Linked DNA regions of Homo sapiens: all the other regions are linked to region 2. The links come from fine-mapping of genetic effects on gene expression. A gene starts in region 2. Each other region holds a variant in brackets. All regions are shown on one strand. Distances are from middle to middle. Region 1 has its middle 25 kb from the start of SLC46A2. Region 2 holds the start of SLC46A2 (solute carrier family 46 member 2). Region 3 overlaps SNX30 (sorting nexin family member 30). Region 4 overlaps SNX30 (sorting nexin family member 30).

Region 1 (5,152 bases), 25 kb before region 2:
GAAATATGTGTCAAAGTAAAAGTAGTGAAGAAATGAGCTGATATTCCATAAACCAACTGGTTTTACAAGTCTCCTTATTCAGAATCAGCTGGCCTTATCTAAAGGTAGAATGACTCATTGTGGACTCACCTATGACTCCTCCTTGGACATAAAACCCTGCAAGGATAAGGTTTTCCAAGATACAGTATATGTAGTTTCTCCTGTATGCAGGATTTATAAGTCTAGAAATCAAGGGGTAGAGGTAGGAGTAACATCTCTTGTGATCATATCTAAATAACTCACTCATAAATTGCTTACCTCTTATATCTGGATTTGGGGATCTGGTTGCTTAATGGTGTTAGTATTCAAGGTTAGAATGCCTCTATCAATTCTACTGAAGTGGAGATTGTCATCTGGCCATTTGAGAAATCTCATACCATTAGGTGGACAGGCAATTTAAGAGGGTCATATGGTTAGCTGGGTGACTTATCCTTATTATCATGCATAAAAAGAGTCTCTGCCACATGATAGGGGCCAGAGGGCCTATGTGTAGAGTTCAGGAGACTCCCAGTGGTAAAGTTAATGGAAGAGCATGCAATCTTCTACAAACAAGACCAGCAAGGGGTCAAAGTCCTCAGAAATAAGTATTCAATCACTCCTATGATAAACTAAATTATTGGTCTCAATTCTTCACTCTCCTGAAGTAGAATTTTCTGTATCTACTCATGATGTGTGAAGGATACTTTTCAATCTCTTGACTTTGGACTTGACCACGTGACTTCCTAATGGATGTTATCAAACATGATGTGAGCAAAGGTTTGAAATACACTTGTGTAGTTGAATTTGTCCTCTTGTATCCCTGCATTTTGAATTAATAAGAATATGCCTTGGGTAGTCACTTGTTGAAAGAGGATGAGATATATGGGGAGTGGATTTTGATCTAACCCACAGTTTAAGGTCAAGCCCAGCTAAGCCCAGGGTAGATCAGTTGACCCACAGCTAACCCACAGACCTGTGAGTGAGAAAAAAATACTTGTTACTGTAAGTCACCTAAATCTTGAAATTGTTTTATATATAGTATTTCTCTGGCAACAGCTGACTGATACAACATCTAGCAAAGAATCCTGACTAGCTGAAATGTTTGCCAAAGGAAAGAGGAACATAAAATTCATGGCAAAGAAACCCCTCAAATATCAGTAGTACCTCAGGATCTTATACTTAAGTGAGGATTACAGCTGCTACCTTTCTTATTATGTATCATATACTTAATTTGTCTTCTTTTTTCTTCCTTTCTTGACCATTGAATGCAGGGTATTATTGGCCAGGCTTATCAATCAGCCATGGGTTTTTTTAAATAATAGAGGATCATCTCTAGAATTAGAACGAAACAGATATTAGATAGAGAGCCTAAACAAGAATCTCGATACAATGAATTAATATAGTTTCATGTTTTCCCTCTCTTGGAAGGAGAATGAGCATATTTTCACTTTTATACTGGTTATATTATCAGGCAGGGATATTTTAAAAATTATATGGAAAGAAGTGACTGTGGATATAGTAGACAGCCAAGAGGTAGAATGTAGCAAGTGTAGACATCACTGTCCTCTACATCTGCCCACTAATCCCCAAAACAACACTAGAAGGTCATCGGGTGTTTTTTTTTAAGAAAGTTTAAGGTAGTGAATACCCCAGCCAGGAACCAGAGCTATGTGTACATGACTGATTCCAAGAAGCTGTTAAAGTCACAGAATTAGAACTTATATAATGCTAAGGATTTTAAGACAAGGCTAGAAGGGTTTTTTGCCATCTGGCTTGGGGGAAACTAGTTAGATGCATTACATTTGGGTTTAGTGGGAAATTTTAATGTGGGGGACCTACTGCAACCTGACACAAGAGTCCAGAGAGAATGGATGAGGGCAGATCTCTATAGCTTGTCGGTCCTCTGCCATATCTACAGTCATGGCAGCTTTAGTCAATAAGAAGGTATTATACATTTAAAATTTTAAGAGGGTAGATCTCTTACCAAGTCCTCTTACCACAATGAAATGAAATTCAAGAAAGAAAAAAGAAAGGATGAGGACAGACTTTCTATGGCTGAAGACCCAGCCATGAATTTACCCAAACTTCAGGAAAGATTGTGGGCAGAAGGGTTGCTGAAAACTCAGTAATCAGAATATTCCCCTTTAACATTTCTGTTTAGACACATATTTTGCTTTTCTGTCCACTTTAAGTATGTCTGTAGAAACCATTTATTAGATGCACCCTACAATTTAATCAGATTGTAGGTGTTTCTACATTGGAGTATACTTCATTTCACTTATAAGCAACATCATAAGGTACCATAACTCAAGCATCATACCACCAATTGGCATAAATTATCATAAAACTCACAGGATAGCTTGCAAGTCAAGTTAGATCAACAAACATTGTGTAATGTTTTATGCAATGAACCAGTGTTGCTCTTCCCACAGTCAACCTGGGACAACTTCGTATTTATAAAGCAAAACGTTATCTAGCATCGTTGATTTGGAAGGCCTGCCTGTTCTGAGATTTCCCCAAATTGCCACTATTTGTGAGAAAAAGATCAATCATTTAGTGATTATATCAAAGGGGAAAGGATAACTTCAATAGCCATCTTTTCCCACTGTGTATCAAATGGACTTGAACTGGCAGAAACAGTTCAGGGTAGTGCCGGGTATATAATAGTTGCTCTAAGAAGATGCTTTATTATATCATAGTGTTATGCATTAATTCGATTCAACAGCTGGCCTTTACTTAACAAATGCCAGAGATCCTTAAAGGTTTGGATTAGGCCTGAGCAAATGAGAAAGATAAGGAACTCTTGCATAGAAATGCTGAACTCGAGCAATGATTCCGTTGATTCTCAGATCATTAGTTTTTAATCTAAAAGACTTTTATACTAATTAGTCTGTTTAAGTGTGAATGGAGAAATTATTATTTCCAAATTTTTCACTGGGAAATGAGGCCTTATATTTAACAGAATTCATGATGTATAATAATAGATTGTGAAAAGCTAAATTATATACCATTTTAACTGTGTAGACAACATGTAGACCAGTCAAAACACTGAGAGATTTTGATACGGCCTTGCATGAGGAGAGTGCAAATGATAATAAACACGTACTTTCCACTTTAAGCACATACTCTCCCAAAATAAAGTGGATTCTTATGGGACATTATCCAAGCTGGAAATAGACAATGCTTGTGGGTTGCTCCTGGCTGGTCATGCTGAGCCTGCTGGTCCAAGTG[G/A]CAGAGCTGGCTTCAGGCCAAGGAAGATAAGATCAAAACACTATTCAAGGAGGAAGAGAAGGAGAAATGAGTCTCTCCCCCTCTTTTTTGTCTGTACATAGAGTCCACATCAATAGTGGATTATTTAGTAAAACACACATTTATATGCCAGGGCTTACTTTAAGTCACAAACATAGTCTTGATTCTGAAATGATGCTGTCCACTATGATATATTTAATCAACATTTGGATGTTCATTGTAAAGATAAATTTTCTCCTTTCTTCTTCTTCTTCTTTTTTGTTTTGTTTTGTTTTGTTTGTTTGACAGAGTCTTACTCTGTCACCCAGGCTGGAGTGCAGTGCCACAGTCTCAGCTCACTGCTGCAACCTCCGCCTCCTGGGTTCAAGCAATTCTCTTGCCTCAGCCTCCTGAGTATCTGGGACTACAGGCGCAGGCCACCACGCCTGGCTAATTTTTATATTTTTAGTAGAGACCGGGTTTCACTATGTTGGCCAGGCTGGTCTCAAACTCCTGATCTTGTGATCCGCCTGCCTCAGCCTCCCAAAGTGCTGGGATTATAGGCATGAGCCACCTTTACCAGCCCTTTCTTCTCAGGTAAAGTCACTGCAGGGAAACTGCAGGCTTCTGGGAACTGTCTTTTTCTCTTTTTCCCATTGCTCCTCTCTCAGATGCCTAACAGCTGCTTGTGGCCTCCCTGGGATTGGAGCCCAAGGAGGGAGAAGGAAAAGGGAGGAGGAAAAAAGTTCACTCTTGCCTGATGCTATCATAAAACCGCTTTGTGCTCTCTGGACTTGGCAGGTATCTAAAGCTGACCCTTTCTCAAGTAGGTCCCCCTGAAAAGTTCCTCTGACGACCACTCCCACGCTGTAGGCAGAGCTCCGCTCCTTGACTGCCTTCTTTCTACCCATACCATTCACCCCACCCAGCATCTTCCTATAGGACATCCCAGAATCTCCCCTGGCAGGCCATCTTCCTAGGCAGAATTCTTGTTAATCCAGACCAACATTCCTGCTATCATTTCTGAGAATTCATGGGCCTTGCTCTGCCTTTGTGGGAGAGTGTGCTTATTTTCCAATTGCAGACTCTCCTGTGTTTCATGGCCACTTTGGCTTTCTCAGCTACAAATCAGATGCCAGTTCCCTGGGTCTCCGATAGCCAAGAACATATGTTCAGATCTGCCAGGTTGACTGGATCCCTGAGGAATGTGGAATGATAGATTCTAAACTGGAATGATAGAGCAACCACAGATAAAGAAGACTGCCAGTCCAGGCCAGTTGGAAGCACACAGCCTACAGTACGCAACGAGCAGCCATCCCAAGCACAGGGTATGATGGCCAGGGCTTGATCGCTATGAAAAGAAGAGAACTAAAGTGCAAAAGAAGGAATTCCGTTTCTAGGGGCCCAAAAGCTCAGCTGCAGGAACCCAATCTGAAGGATCCTTTTAAAAGCAAAACATCTCTCTTCTATTGTTTTATCCCAGGATCCAAGAGAATAAGTGATCCCAATAGGAGTAACATTTGGATTATATTTGCAAGGTCCCTGGAAATGTCTAGGTCTATTTAAGGAGCTGTTCCTGGGAAAATAATACACTTCAGGCTAGTAAGCCAGTGGGGGCTTGGAATGGGCAGCTTAAGGGTACTTTCTGAATATGATAGTGGACTTCAAGAGAGTGGGAATTTGTATCTGTTTTGCTTGCTGCTATATCCCCAGAGCCTGGAATTTTTCTGTGTATTAAAGAATTAGCCTTACCCAAAGGGAAGTCTGGCCTTTGCCTCAGTTACTGGGAGGTGATCTCTAGGCCCAAAGAATGTCCTGCCTGATAAGAGTGTCTTTGTTTACCTAGGCTCCTTGAGAGACACTAGACTGTCTAACCATGTGATTTATAACAAGCATTTTGGGCCGC
Region 2 (5,152 bases):
AACAATAATCACAACATGATTGTGTTGTTTCTACTCCTCTCCACATTCCAATGTGGGTTAAGAGGACATCCTCAAATAAAAATTTCTGGCAACTGTATTTTCCCCATAGCTGTAGGCTTGCAAAGACTGTCTGATGCCAAATACTAGTTTCCTGATTTACTGGCCTTGTGATCTTGTGCAAATTTCCTAACCTCTCTGGTTTCAGTATCTCAGTCTGTAAAAATGGGGTGATAGATCAGCTCACAGACTTCTCGGGAGGATTAAATTCATTCACGTAAAATGCTTAGTACATAATAAGGGCTCAAAAAATATTAGTTGCTACTGTTTTTTTTCTTAGTTCCTTTCTTCTGGAATAGTGTGATTTTATCAATCTAAACATCAGAGATTTAGTACTTGCACTTTAATGAAGCCAACCTTGCACTGGAGACTAGATTCTATCTTGAAGTGGCAAGGTCAGGGCTCTACTTGCTGGTAGCCTGGGCTGCAGAGGATGACCAGGTGCTAGCTCACCTGGGGCCTGCATTCAGAGATGGAGCAAGAAGTGGGGACATGATGAGAATATAATCCAACCCACAGTAGCCTAAACTGGGAGAGACACTGACTACCCTGAGTCTTGTTCATTTCCAGGCCAGAGAACTCAGAAGCCTGGGGGTTCCTAGGGCTGACTAGCATCCTAATAACCCAGCTCCTACTAGATCTGTTCTAGATCTGATGTGACTCTCTCAGAGACCCTTCAAATGTCCCTGGTTTCCCAAGACAATGGGAAGAACTGAAATACCACAGACCCTCCCAGAGATGACAAGGGCTGCCCCCTACAGTCTAGAGCCCTAGAATGCACAGACTCCTTGATCAAGTGGCCAGAGTGGTCCATCTGGGTCAGGTTGTTCTCATGGCCATATTTGATTGTGGAATACCACCTGGCCCCATAACCTACTCATTCACTGGAGTCTCCACCCCTCATAGGATCAAGGTGTTTGGACTGTTTGCTGTAGCCTCTGGAAAAATTAAGAATGGAGTGGGAGAGCCAGGCTTGGGTTGGGTGAAACATGTATCTCCCAAGGTGACCCTAGGTGAGGGGGAGGAAGAAGGAAATGGGCTGCTGGGCCAGATCCATGGGGCACATCTTGAAGGGCAAGACTAGGTGTGTCTTTCTCTTTGCAGAAGGCAGAGTCGTCTGGGCCTAGACACGAGGAGGCTGGGCCATGCTGGAGGTTGAGGGTGGCAGGGGAGGAGATTATAGCCCACCTAAACACTACCAAAAGAGCACATAGATACACTAAATCATTTGGAATCCAGTCCCTACTCCCTACATGAGTATATTATCCATGTGGCATTTTAAGCTCTCCCTGCATACCTGCGTCTCCCTTTCATGTCTTTGGGTTCCTGATCATCCACGCTGCCAGAGCTATAGTGGATTGTGGGTAGAGGGACAGGAAGGCTGTGTGCTTTGAGTCTCCATCCCTGGGGCTGACCATGGAACAGGTCATGCTCTGTGGTACATTTTGGCCCCTGCACCATCCATCACCCTGGTTTTCTTTGCAGAAGTATGTACCTAAACAAGAAGCGAGGCCACCTGGGAAGTGGAGGTCTCAGCCCAGCCCAGGGGAGTGAGCCCACAGACAGAAGAAGAGTGACTACTAACAAGCAGAAAGGGACCTGGGCACTTGATTCAGATGAGGACCCTGGTGACTCTGCCCCTTCCAGTGGGCTCAAGCCCCTGCCCAAGAGTCCAGTTTTATCATCTAGGGGGACATCTAGGGCTGGCAGGATCTTGCCGTCTCTCCCTTGGCCCTGGGGTTTGGGGCAGGAGCCTTCTAGACAAGGCCCAGGCACTAGGCCCACCAATGCAGGTGTACCAAACAGGACTCTTCTCTAAGAGGCCTTTGGCTTGGAGAAGAGCCTGGACCTGGCGGCTCCCAAGTTTTTACTTCTCTCAAAGTGCTACCCAGCTGCCTATAGCACATGGGCCCCTGTTGCATTAAATCTATAAATAAAACTTCACACCCCAATACTTATCCTAGGCAGAATCCTAGGCGTCCCACCCCTCGCGCAAACCTGCCTTCCTGGGATGGGAGAATTTGGAAACGCTCCCTGAGCCAGTCCTGGGGAGCTTCCTTCCAGCCCCTGCCCCGGTGGTGGGGGGTCCGCAGAGATCCGCGGGAGGTCCGGGCACGCACGCCTGGCTGTGGGGAAATTCGGCCCCGTCAGGCGGCCGCGCTCACAGGAGCAGCGTGACCCGTCGGCCCCGGGGGTGCTGGCGCCAGGAGCCAGCACTCGCGGTGCGCTCCCCCGCGCCTGGCTTCCCTGGACTGTCGCCAGTCCTACTCTGCCTGAGGTGGCGAGGGCAGGGTGGAGCGCGGCCTTTTCTGGCCTGAGGAGGAGTCACTCGGGAGGTCACTCGGCTGCTGGGCGGGCTGCTGTCACAGGCGCTGCGTGCCCTGGCTCTGCTCGCCACTGGCCGGCGCGCTCCCGGCGCACGGAGCACACTCGCGCTCCCGGCGCACGGAGCACACTCGCGCTCCGGGACTGAAACCTGAGCAGCCGTAGCAGCCGAATTTGGGAGCATATCCTTGTCACTGCAGCCAGAAAGCCCTTCGATCCCCATCAGAGAGGTCACATGAGCCCCGAGGTCACCTGCCCGCGGAGGGGCCACCTGCCTCGCTTCCACCCGAGGACCTGGGTTGAGCCCGTGGTGGCCTCGTCCCAGGTGGCTGCCTCCCTCTACGATGCGGGGCTACTCCTCGTGGTGAAGGCGTCCTACGGAACCGGAGGCTCCTCCAACCACAGTGCCAGCCCATCGCCCCGGGGGGCTCTAGAGGACCAACAGCAGAGAGCCATCTCCAATTTCTACATTATCTACAACCTTGTGGTGGGCCTGTCCCCCCTGCTGTCCGCCTACGGGCTGGGATGGCTCAGCGACCGCTACCACCGAAAGATCTCCATCTGCATGTCGCTGCTGGGCTTCCTGCTCTCCCGCCTCGGGCTGCTGCTCAAGGTGCTGCTGGACTGGCCAGTGGAGGTGCTGTACGGGGCGGCGGCGCTGAACGGGCTATTCGGCGGCTTCTCCGCCTTCTGGTCCGGGGTCATGGCGCTGGGATCGCTGGGCTCCTCCGAGGGCCGCCGCTCTGTGCGCCTCATCCTCATTGACCTGATGCTGGGCTTGGCGGGGTTCTGCGGGAGCATGGCTTCCGGGCATCTCTTCAAGCAGATGGCTGGGCACTCTGGGCAGGGCCTGATACTGACGGCCTGCAGCGTGAGCTGTGCCTCGTTTGCCCTGCTCTACAGCCTTTTGGTGCTAAAGGTCCCTGAGTCGGTGGCCAAACCCAGCCAGGAGCTCCCCGCCGTGGATACCGTGTCTGGCACGGTTGGCACATACCGCACTCTGGATCCTGATCAGTTGGACCAACAGTATGCAGTGGGGCACCCTCCATCTCCTGGAAAAGCAAAACCCCATAAAACCACCATTGCCTTGCTCTTTGTGGGTGCTATCATATATGACCTGGCGGTGGTGGGCACAGTGGACGTGATCCCTCTTTTTGTGCTGAGGGAGCCTCTCGGTTGGAACCAAGTGCAGGTGGGCTATGGTATGGCTGCAGGGTACACCATCTTCATCACCAGCTTCCTGGGTGTCCTGGTCTTCTCCCGCTGCTTTCGGGACACCACCATGATCATGATTGGGATGGTCTCCTTTGGGTCAGGAGCCCTCCTCTTGGCTTTTGTGAAAGAGACATACATGTTCTATATTGGTGAGTCTGTCATTCTTGAGGAGGCAGGACATTGCTAGCCCTCTGCATCATGGGGCTGACACCAGGGATGCCATGGTCTGGGTGTCCTAGCTCAGCACCAGGGATTGAACCTGCTACCTAGGAGGCACAAGGGACACAAGATTATATGCCCCTGAGTTTATCTGTAATGTATTGTTAATTAATTATCTATATTGAGAATGAAATGTTACCAGAGTGGTGTTCATGGTTCTGGGCAGTCAAGGAGGTGTGGTCAGTGGTACCTGGAGTCAGTAGGGGAGGCTTCAGGATGGCCTTCAACAGAGGAGATGGAATTGGGTTTCTTCCCCCACACCCCCTTGCCATTTTAAAGGGATGGAATTTCAAAGGCCGAGCGCAGAGGCTCTCGCCTGTAATCCCAGCACTTTGGGCGGGAGGTGGGAGGATCACTTGAGGCCAGGAGTTCAAGACCAGCCTGGCCAATATAGCAAAACCTCATCTCTACCAAAAGCATAAAAATTAGCCAGGTGTGGTGGTGCACACCTGTAGTCCTAGCTACTCAGGAAGCTGAGGCACAAGAATCACTTGAACCCAAGAGGCAGCGGTTGTAGTGAGCCGAGATTGTGCCACTGCACTCTAGCCTGGGTGATAGAGCAAGACTCTGTCTCAAAAAAAAAAAAACAAACAAACAAAAAAAAAAAAACGTGGAGGAGTGGAATTTCAAGTAATTCTACTGAAAAGATCCCTTAATTAAAATCATTTGGAGTCAAGCAAGGGCTTTTTAAAAATGCATTAAAATACTCGGTAAATGCCTTCCACAACCAATGTAATAAATTCCCCAAGGAAGCAGCATTAAGTTTCCATCTGAGGGCACAAGTCAGACAACTATAAGCAGAAAGCTCGAGATGAATGCTCCAATAGAACTTTCTAGAATGATGGAAATAGTTGCTATCCATTCTGTCCAATACAGAAGCCACTGGCTCCATGTGGCTATTGAGCCGTTGAAATGTAGCTAGCGCAACTAAAGAACAGATTTTTAAATTTTATGTCATTGTATTTAATTTAAATAGTTATATGGGGCTAGTGGCTATCATATCAAAAAAACAACTTCAGACAGTTATCTGAGGCTGGCTCTTGGCCCAGGCAGGTCACACATCTTAGAAACACCTAACAAAATGGCAAGGTAACCTCTGGTCACTTCTCAATTAAACAGCATAGGACAGAGTACCCCCTTCCCCTTTTGCCCACCACCTCTCTCTGTGTCTCTCTTTGGGTTTTGTTTTGTTTTGTTTTGTTTTTGAGATGGAGTTTCACTCTTGTTGCCCAGGCTGGAGTGCGATGGTACGATCTCGGCTCACTGCAACTTCCACCTCCTGGGTTCAAGTGATTCCCCTGCCTCAGCCTCCCAAGTAGCTGGAATTATAGGCATG
Region 3 (5,152 bases), 63 kb after region 2:
GCACATGAAAAGATGCTTAACATCAGTAAAACCATCATGATACGCCATTTCATACCTGCTAAGATGGCCATAATCTTAAAAAAAAACAAAAACAAAACAAACAAAAAAAAACAAGTGTTGGTGAGGATGTGGAGAAATCAGAACATTTATACATTGCTGGTGGGAATGTAAAATGTGCAGCCACTGTGGAAAACAGTTTGGTGGTTCCTCAATAAGTTAAATTTAGAATTACCATAAAACTCACCAATTCCACTCACAGATTTATGCCCAAAAGAACTGAAAGCAAGGCTGGGCGTGGTGGCTCATGCCTGTAATCCCAGCACTTTGGGAGGCCAAGGCAGGTGGATTGCCTCAACTCAGGAGTTCGAGACCAGCCTGGGCAACATGGTGAAACCACGTCTCTACCAAAAATATTAAATATAAAAACAATTAGCTGGGCATGGTGGCTTGCACCTATAGTCCCAACTATTCAGGAGGCTGAGGTGGGAGGATAGCTTAGGCTGGCAAGATGGGGAGGTTGCAGTGAGTGGAGATTGCACCACTGCACTCCAGCCTGGGTTACAGAGTGAGACTTCATCTCAAACAAACAAACATTTTTTAAAACTTTAAAAAAAAAATTGAAAGCAGGTGCCCAAACAAAATTTTGTACACAAATAGTCATAACAGCCTTGTTTACAATGACCAAAAGGCAGAAGCAATCCAAATGTCCATCAACATGTGAATGGGCAAACAAAATGCGGCATATCCATGCAATGGACTAATAGTTTGTCATAAAAACTAAGTACTAAAACATGCTACATCATGGAAAAACCCTGGAAACATTATGGTAAATGAAAACAGCCAGATACAAAAGTCCATATATATGATTCCATTCATGTGAAATGTCCAGAATAGGCAAACCCACAGAGACAGACAGTAGATGGTGGTTGCCAGGGGCTGGAGAGATCGGGGGAAATGAGATGTGACTGCTTCATGGGTACAGGGTTTCCTTCCAGGGTGATTCTGAAACTTTTCAGAAGGTGGTGACAGATGCACAACATTGTGAATGTATTTGATGCCACTGAATTGTAGATTATAAAATGGTGCTATGTTTTTTAGCACAATAAAAGAGCGTATTACATACCTCAAAGTCATAAAGCATAATAATAGTACCAGCACTTATTAATCTACCACTCAACTTGACAGAGAGAACACTGCCATTGACAAAGTTCCCTGTCAACGGATCCCTGATCAGATCTCCGCTTATTCCTGCCCCCATGAAGGAATTAACAATCCTCAACTTTTTGGTCATTGCTCCCCTCTAAGTTTCAGTTTTAAAACCATGTACTGTTCGTTGAGCTTGTTTAACTTTATAAAAAATAAAATTACAGTTAATGTGTCACTTAATGACAGAGATACACTCTGAGAAATGCATTGTCAGGCAATTTCATCATTGTGTGAACATCACAGAGTGCACCTACACAAACCTAGATGGTGCGGCTACTACACACCGAGGCGATACGGTATAGGCTATTGCTCCTAGCATGTTACTGTGCTGACTACTGTAGACAATTGTAACACAATGGCAAGTACTTGGGTACCTAAACATATTTAAATGTAGAAAAGGTACAGTAAAAATACAGTATTATAATCTTATGGGACCACCATCTATATGCCATCCACCATTGACAGAAATGTCACTATGCAGTACACACCTGTATAGTTCGCTTTTGTCATTCAACATTGTCTTTCTGCGACTTATCCATATTGATGTATGTTTAGCTACAGGAAAATAATTTTACTGTTCCATAGTCACGCACTATATAACTGACTGTGTGACAAATTGTCCACCTACTCTCCTGCCTGTGAACGTGTGCATGATCATGTGAATGGTTTTCAGCTTTATAGCCCTACTAACAATGCTGCTGTGAACACTCGTGCAGATGCAGCCTCTTTAGAAAATGCAAGCCTCTTTAGGGAATAAACCAAGACAACGTTGGCCAAGCAGGTCTATCAGGACAATCACATGCTTTTTCCTTTAATACGGTAAGTGGTAAATTAATATATTTTCTAATGTTAAACCAACCTAGCAGTTCAAGTTCAAAGTAAGACATTAAACACAAGCATTTAACTCCACAACCTCCTCAAACCCCCATAATATGGCAATAAAGAGGATTTTTTAAAATTATAAACCCTGAAGGACAAAAACAAACCAGAAATAAGACATAGCAACAAGGATTAGTGGACTTAGCCAACCCAAAAAAGTGGAATACTAGGCCACTTGGAGTAGGCCTAGTAAACCTAGATTTAGAACACAAAACCTTGAAAAGATTTAGGAATTGGTAACACCAACACCCCACCCCCTGGAAAAGAAGTATTTGGAGTATGAGGGAATTCAGTGCCCTCAACTTGAAAGAGCTTCAGAAAGTATGTTTTAGTTATCAAGAGTAAAGATTCTGATGCCATGCTTCCTGGGTTTATCTTTTGACTTTGCCACCTACTAGCTGTTTGCCTACCGTCAAGTTCTATACATTTCTTGGTACCTCAAGAAGTTGGTGCTAGGTAAAAACTAATAGCATCAACTTCACAGGGTTGTCATGAGGATTAAATTAGCTAATATGCTGAAAGTGCTTTGAATGATTCCTACCACAGGGTAAACACACACAAGTTTGGGTGTCTTTGTTGTAAGACTGGCAGCAGCTTCAGGGGACTACTAATCTTCAGGGACATCCAGTGTTCATTTAAACCTTGACATGGTGGGAATATTCAGAGAAGATGTTAAGAATACTGGGGGATTCTTTATGACAGAGCAGGAGTTCCAAAAAGGGCACAGTGGAAAGGTTTGTAAATGAAAGAAGAGAGGGGAATAGAGTCAGGAATAAAATTACAGACCCACACAAGGATAACATGTCCACGT[G/A]TGACACCCAGCAGAGCTTACACTTGAGTAGAATATTCGAAATGCAGTGCTGGATCAGACAGACGGGCCACTCAGCCCGATGCTGGCCCAGTCCAAAGCACTGAGAAGTTATCTTAATGGGATATGGCTGTCCTTTAGGATAATTCCTTTATTCTGGTCAGTTCTTCTCTCCCCCGTTCCTTTAGGCAGCCATTCTCATACCCCAGCTTTTCGTGCTAAGCAGATTACTATCTTTCTGAAGTGAGAACCAGGTGTAAGAGCATCAGATGGAAATTTCCTATTTTGCTTCCTCCACAGAAGCCCATTGACTGGGCATCACCCTCACCTCCATTCCTTAGCCCCTGTGGAAAACAACCCCTCCTCCCCTAAAGCTAAGCATTCCATCTGTGTCCTTGACCCATTTGTTCATTGGGGTGCACCTGTCATTAATCTCTTCCCTGTATCTTCAACATCTCCTGTTCATCCAGCTCTATTCCCAGAATCTATAAAAATATGGTTGGTTTTTCTTCCTAAAAAATACGAATCCAACCACCCCTTGACCTTATATCTTCTCCCTTGTCCTTCCTGGCTCATTCAATCTTTTTGAAAGGAGTCACTTATCTCGACTTCACTGTATCCCATTGATTTCTCAACCCCCAGCCTTCTGCCAACCCTCAAAGCAAAACCAGCTGTGATACTGCCTTCAGTGCTGGGTTTCTCTGCCCTATCCCCACCCAGTGCAGAAACGGCCCTTTTAAAATTGAGTGCCAATGACTTTCTAATTACCAAATCCAGTGGATATTTTCCTGTTCTTACTTCATGAGTCCTGTTACGATACTCTCATTTGCTTCTGCTGAATAAGACTTGAGAGGATGGCCTGAGGCGCAAGTAAGTGGTTAGGAGTGCCTCATTTAACATAAAGATGACATTCTACAATAGGGGTCCATTCTTCAGATTTAGCAAATTGAACTTATGTTTCATCAATCGGGGAAACTTGATATTTAAAGGAACCCTAGAGAGAATCCTTCTGCAAGCAGAATTTCCTCCTGTCATAAGCGTTATCATTTCCAAATGTATGTAGCTTCAGAAATTTCTTGCTATTTCAAGATTCCTTACGGGACACACCTACTCTCAGCCTCACCTCTATTACTGTCTGGGTTGTTTACACATAGGAATCTGGGTTGCAGGTGAAATCAAGTCCATCTATAGTCTGTAAACCACATCATGTAAATGAAAAGAGCTCAACACAGTTCCAGGCACACAGCAGATGTCTAACAAATGCCAAGTATTTTTATTAATTTGTAAGCACCGAGAACAAAAAGCAAAAAGGGGAGTGGACTTACAGGTAGAATGTCTATATAACGTTTAGGCCAAAATGTCTTAAAAAATCGATTGGGGGAAGCAGACACAGTGGCTCATGTCTATAATCCTAGCATTTTGGGAGGTCAAGCTGGGAGGATTGCTTGAGGCTAGGAGCTCCAGACCAGCTTGGGCAACATAGCAAGACCCCATCTCTACAAAAAATAAAAAATTAGCTGGCCATGGTGGTGCACGCCTGAAGTCCCAGCTACTGTGGAGGCTGAGGTGGGAGGATTGCTTGAACCCAGGAGTTGGAGGCTGCAGTAAGCTATGGTCATGCCAATGCACTCCAGCCTGGGTGACAGAGTGAGATCCTGTCTCAAAAAAACAAGTCATTTGGGATCTACTTCTTCACACCCACTAGAATTTTTAAAGTAAAATAGCAAATGTTGGCAAATACGTGGAGAAATTGGGCCCTCATACATTTCTAGTGCAGATATAAAATTATAAGCCACTGTGGAAAACCGTTTGAACAATTCCTCAAAAAATTAAACACAGAATTACTATATGCTCCAGCAATTCCACTTCTTGTTGTATAGCCAAGGTAACTGAAAATAAGTGCTCAAACAAAATCTTAGACAACCACCAGTGTTGATAGCAGCATTCTTCATTATAGCCGGGCTGGGAAAAGGAGGGAATTGAGAGTGGTTCCTTAATGGGTACAAAGTTTCTTTTGGGGGTAATGAAAATGTTCTGGATTAAATAGTGGTGATGGTCGTACAACACTCAATGGTGGTGATGGTCGTACAACACCGTGAATGTACTAAAAGTCACTGAATTGGACACTTCAGAATGGTTAAAATGGTGATGTGTAATATGGATTTTACTTCCTTTTTTAAGAAAAGGAGATGTGATGGTGGAAGCAGAGATGATGACAGATATGCTGCTGGCTTTGAAAATAAAGAGGCCATGAGCCAA
Region 4 (5,152 bases), 27 kb after region 2:
AGCAGAGGGAAGGTGTGGGAGTTACAGAAGAAAGGAACTCTGGGTAACAGACTGCACTACTGCACTCCAACCTGGGTAACAGAGTTTTTGACCCTATCGCAATATATATATATATATACATACATACATACATACACACACACACACACTCACTCATGTGTGTATGTATGTATGTATATGTGTGTATATATATGTGTGTATACGTGTGTGTGTGTGTGCATACATACATACATATATATATATATATATATATATATATATATATATATGGCGTGACAGGATCAAAAAACTCTGTTACCCAGGTTGGAGTACAGTAGTGCACAATCATGACTCACTGTAGCCTTGAACTCCTGGCTCAAGCCATCCTCCTGCCACAGCCTCCCGAGTAGCTGGAACTATAGGCACACGCCACCACACCTGGCTCATTTTGTATCTTTTGTAACGACAGTCCCACTACATTGCCTAGGCTGGTCTTGAGCTGGGCTCAAGTGATCCTCCCACCTCGGACTCTTCAAGTGCTGGGATTACGGGCGTGAGCCACTGCACCTGGCCTCGCACTGGTTTGCTGGACATACGAATCAAGCAAACCTTGATTGAGGGGACTGGGCTGTAGCCTGATAAGAGTCATCTCTATGTGTGTGTGGTGTGTGTATGGTGTGTGTGGGGGTTGTGTGTGAGGGTTGTGTGAGGTATGTGGGTGTGGTGTGTGGGTGTCGTGTGTGGGGGGGTTGTGTGTGGGGTGTGTATGTGGGGTGTATGTGTAGGGGGTGTGTGGTGTGCATGTAGTATGGGGGGTGTGTGGTGTATGTGTGGTGTGTGTGTAGTGTGGGGGGGTGTGGTGTGTGTGTAGTGTGTGTGTGGGGTGTGGTGGTGGTAGTGGGGTGTGTGGGTGTGTGTGTGTGTGCACGCGCATGTGCGTGCGCTGCTTAACCTGGTCAAGGGGATCCATGAGTAAAAGTTTTTAATAGAATTGCTTTCCTTTGTAATCCTACATCCCTTTATTTTACGTATTTAAAATCAATATTTTGAAGTCTATTTAAAAAACAAATGCACAGTATTTTGGTGAGGGGTCTATAGGCTTCACCAGATGACCAAAGGGGTTCACTGCACAACCAAACTGAAGGGACCCTGTGTACAGAACCCCAACACAGAGTAAAGTAACCCCAAAGCCTCCATTCGGTGGCAGCATCACTGTGCTGAAGGTCTGACTGGCTCTGGGAAGCAACCAGTGCCAGGCCCAGAAAGCATGGAAGACGAATGGGCTGCTTCCCCAGCAGCATGTGCAAGGGAAACCCCTGTGAGCACCCCCTCTGCTGCCAAACCCAGCACTGCAGCCACATGGTTGGGCAAGGGCATGAAGCGGGAGCCAAGACTAAGCAGCTAAAATAAGGGAAGGAGATGAGACTAGCAGGATTCCCAGCTTGTGGATTTCTGGTAGGCCCATGTGAAAGGCTCTGGCCATTAGAAACCAGTCTTGTTGGGCACACTCATTACCTTCTCATAATACTGGATGTTCTTGTCAGCCATCCCCATGAGTAGCTGCCGGAAGTCCTGCCTCTTGTTGTTCTGCCACCTCTCCATGTCAGCTTTCAGGTCAGCATTGAAACACTCCATCCGATCCTGACATTTCTCGACGTCCGCCGGTACCTGGAAAAGGGAGGCACACATGGGTGCCCTGCACACAAAACTGGCATCTCTTGCCTTGAGCTCCTCTGAGCACACATTTGTCAAAGGCCAAAGCCCTACATTAAAATGCTATCAACACGCTCCCTCCTCTGGAGGCATTTATTTGAAAGCAAAACCTTGGGTTTTCAGGTCTAAGGAGGAGCTCTGAAAAGGGGCTCTCCTAACCCAGATCTTCAAACCCATCCAAACACAACAGAGACTCGTGGGGGAAACACCCCCATTTACACACAGGAAGAAGAAACATTGCAATTCAGACTCATATGTCTTTGGTTCCTTTTAGGATTTACTCATCCACACTTGAAAGTGTGTGCAGACTTTGCAAATATACAGCATTTGTATTGCCCTGCTATTCTCCTGTGTCCCATATTGGAACTAGAGAAGAGGTAGGTTCTCCCAGATCACATGAACTATTCCATTGCTGTGACATTTGATGATGCCTTTCCTCATTAATCAGAGAATTGCAATAAGACAACTACTGGCCAGCTGCCTCCTCTGAACCCCACATCATAAATAAACTGGAGGCTTGTTTATGCTTTTCCCAATAGCAGATACTTTTAAATGGAGAGTTAGAGAAGTCTGAGAAAACAGGAGGAAAGTTACTTATGCATGTCAAAAAAATTTGAAATTCAAAGAAGAAATATACAGCAGGCTATTTCAAGTTTTTCTTAAAGAGGTTTAGAAGACTTTCTCAAAAGGGAACTATGTCACTTGAAGTTTCACAACTTTCACTTTGCTTTGGTGAATTTCACCATCCTGTGCAGCTGGAGTTTGGGCTTTGTGGCTGCAGC[G/A]CTTCCCAAAGCTGGCTTCTCTCTCCTAACTCAAGCACTTCACTGAGCCCTGATGGCGGCCAGGGAGCCGACAGGCCCAAAGCCAGGTCAAACCCCCGACCTGCCAAATGTATCCCAACCACAAGTGAGGCCTTTTATGTTTGGTGTGCTGGGGCCCATGAACCAAACTGTCTCCAAGCCATGGCTCACCCCTGGGAGTCCACTTCCACCAATCGAGGAGGTTTATACCCAAGCCTCGTGGACAAGGAGCTGACCCAGAATGATGCCAATGAGAAAGACAGGCCTGAGGGAGCTGGACACCTTCAGGGTACTCAGCCATCTTCTCCACAGACCACGTGGAGATGGTTGTAGAACACAGGAGTCAGGGAAGAGACATGGCCAAGGCAAGTGAATTTGAATGTGCCTGACACGGGAACTAGACATGGGTGAAACCAGGATGAGCTGGAGAGAGAGATAACTAGACACTCTGGAAATTTAAAAGCAAGGAATTTTTCTGTTAAGATGGGGAAAGAGGCCTTCTTCAAAGCACATAAGCTTCTGGAAGAGGGAAAAAAAAAATACTGGGCTGAGTGCAGTGGTTCATGCCTCCCAGCACTTTGGGAGGCCAAGGCAGAAGATCACTGGAGGTCAGGAATTTGAGACCAGCCTGGGCAACATAGTAAGACCCCCATCTCTACAATAAGTAGGATGTGGTGGCGCTATGTTGTCCAGGCTGGTCTCGAACTCCTGGCCTCCAGTGATCCTCCCACCTCGGTCCCCCAAAGCACTGGAATTACAGGTTTGAGCCACCATACCAGGTCAGAGACTGACTTTTTCTTCTGATGCCATGATTTAAGTCTCTTTTGCCTCCTCCCAAGACCACCCATTACTATTGGTTACCTCAGGAAAAACTGAAATAAAAACCAGAGTATCCCAGTCTTGCCTCTCCAGAGTCACTCCAGGAATCAGCCTCAATGGAAAGATGCCCAGCGAGCCAGTGTCTCTGGCTGGCCTCACCTCCCCACAGGCACAGGCCAGTTCCCTTACCCGTCTCCTGGCCACTGCTCACACTTGCATTGGGGTGAGGGTGCCTATGAGCAACTTCCTGTTTGCTTAACGAAACTTCTGCTGTGAGGAGAAAATGGAAAGCCCTGGAAAGAGAACCTCACCAGGACACGTGGAGAGGAGGGCAGCCAGGGTCTCTGAATCAGGACTGTTCACAGAGGAAAGATTCCCAGGTTTAAAGATTCCCAGGTGTGTTCTGGAGATGGGAACTCTGACTGACCCAGAAAAATCAGGGTCTAAACCACGGCTGTGGGTTTTAGGACTGCCTGAGCCTCGGTCTGGGAAATATTTGGCTTCTCAGTTTCACAACACATTCTGTGCTTGGCACTGAGGAATACAAAAGTGCTTGGGTCTCAACAGACAAATCTTGTCTCCCGTAACCTACAGTCTAGTTGGGAAGAAACAGGAACATGCCTAGACACTGAGGCAAGATATCGTAAGTGTTGTCGCTTCCCCTGCAGCCCCCGTGATAAGCACGCTGAGGAGGATGGAGGGGGCGGCCAACCTGGGAAGATCGGGCCTCATGGAGGAAACAGCACTGAGGCGGCTCTTTAAAGATGACAGATGTGAGATGTTTGACCACTTGGAAGGCACTCCAGAGTGGCGGTACACACAAGGGACAGAGGAGAGAAGACACCAGGACCCACCGCAGGAATTGTGCACAGGCCACAGGGCCCACAGCGGCACGGAGAGGGAACTGCAGCTCGCAAGACTGGCAGAGGGTGGCAGGGGATGAGGAACCTGAGGCTCGTCCCAAAGTCCTGCTTTCCTGAGGCCCAGTTAACTCATGCCCACTCTTGGAGAATAGAAAAAGCCCCACACTTCCTCCAGCTGCAGTGGACAGCTCTAGAACCAAACTTCCAGAGCTTAGCTTGCACACCCCACCTGCCACTTACCAGGTGTGTGGCCTGGGACCTGGCCTCAGCTTCTCTGTCTGGCTAATAATATCCTCCGCCTCACTAGGCTGTCATGAGGCCAGACAGGCTAATATGTGTTAAGTGCTTTACAGCGTCCTAATTAGGAAGGGGGAGTTGGGCTGACAGGACCAAGGGAAAGCAAAAAGAGAAGGCAGATTAAGCTATACTTCTGCTTTTCTTCATGGTCCAGGACACATAGCCTTCCTGCACAAATATTAATAACACAATCTTCCTGCACCCAGCTATCACCAGACCCTCAGTTAATAGAAAAATGCAAGTTTGCTCACTGCGACCTTGGAGTTATCAGCACTGCATGAAGCCCTCTTCAGTACACAGCACGAGCACCATTCTATGAAATCCCCAGCAAGCCTTTGTTTCTGGGCAGTCAGCTCCCTTCCTGCTGATCTGCCTGTTGCACTCTTGCAATGTATTTTCCTACTTTTTCTAATAAATCTGTTTTTCTTTACCTATAATTGTCTTGGTAAATTCTTCTTACCCCTGCAACACTGGTTCCAGAGAGTCATTGCACACCTGTGACACACTTGTGCCTGGCATATAGTAAGTGCTCAATAAACATTTGTTAGCTCATATCAGTATCAATATTATAATTTGCTGTTCACAAAAGATAATCTATCCCTTGCACAGCTCCTCAAGCTTTATTCCATGTGTTATAAAACAGGTTTTCATCTTCCAAATACAAACTATATTATTATATGT

The links. PIP is the estimated chance that this variant, and not a neighbour inherited with it, causes the effect.
Region 1: its variant is fine-mapped to the expression of SLC46A2 in tibial artery (GTEx, PIP 0.97).
Region 3: its variant is fine-mapped to the expression of SLC46A2 in whole blood (TOPMed, PIP above 0.99).
Region 4: its variant is fine-mapped to the expression of SLC46A2 in whole blood (TOPMed, PIP above 0.99).

The regions. Positions count from the first base shown.
Region 1 is chr9:112,912,804-112,917,955 of GRCh38, reverse strand. No RefSeq gene overlaps it. Among named protein-coding and RNA genes, the nearest start is that of SLC46A2, 25 kb to the right of the region's middle. The variant G/A (reference allele first, on the strand shown) is at 3,250.
Region 2 is chr9:112,888,147-112,893,298 of GRCh38, reverse strand. SLC46A2 (solute carrier family 46 member 2) reads left to right here and starts at 2,423. Exons shown (of 4, transcript NM_033051.4): 1 at 2,423-3,746. The coding sequence starts at 2,618.
Region 3 is chr9:112,824,716-112,829,867 of GRCh38, reverse strand. All of the region lies in intron 3 of SNX30 (sorting nexin family member 30), which reads right to left. Among named protein-coding and RNA genes, the nearest start is that of SLC46A2, 64 kb to the left of the region's middle. The variant G/A (reference allele first, on the strand shown) is at 2,897.
Region 4 is chr9:112,860,742-112,865,893 of GRCh38, reverse strand. SNX30 (sorting nexin family member 30) reads right to left here. Exons shown (of 9, transcript NM_001012994.2): 8 at 1,495-1,647. Among named protein-coding and RNA genes, the nearest start is that of SLC46A2, 28 kb to the left of the region's middle. The variant G/A (reference allele first, on the strand shown) is at 2,475.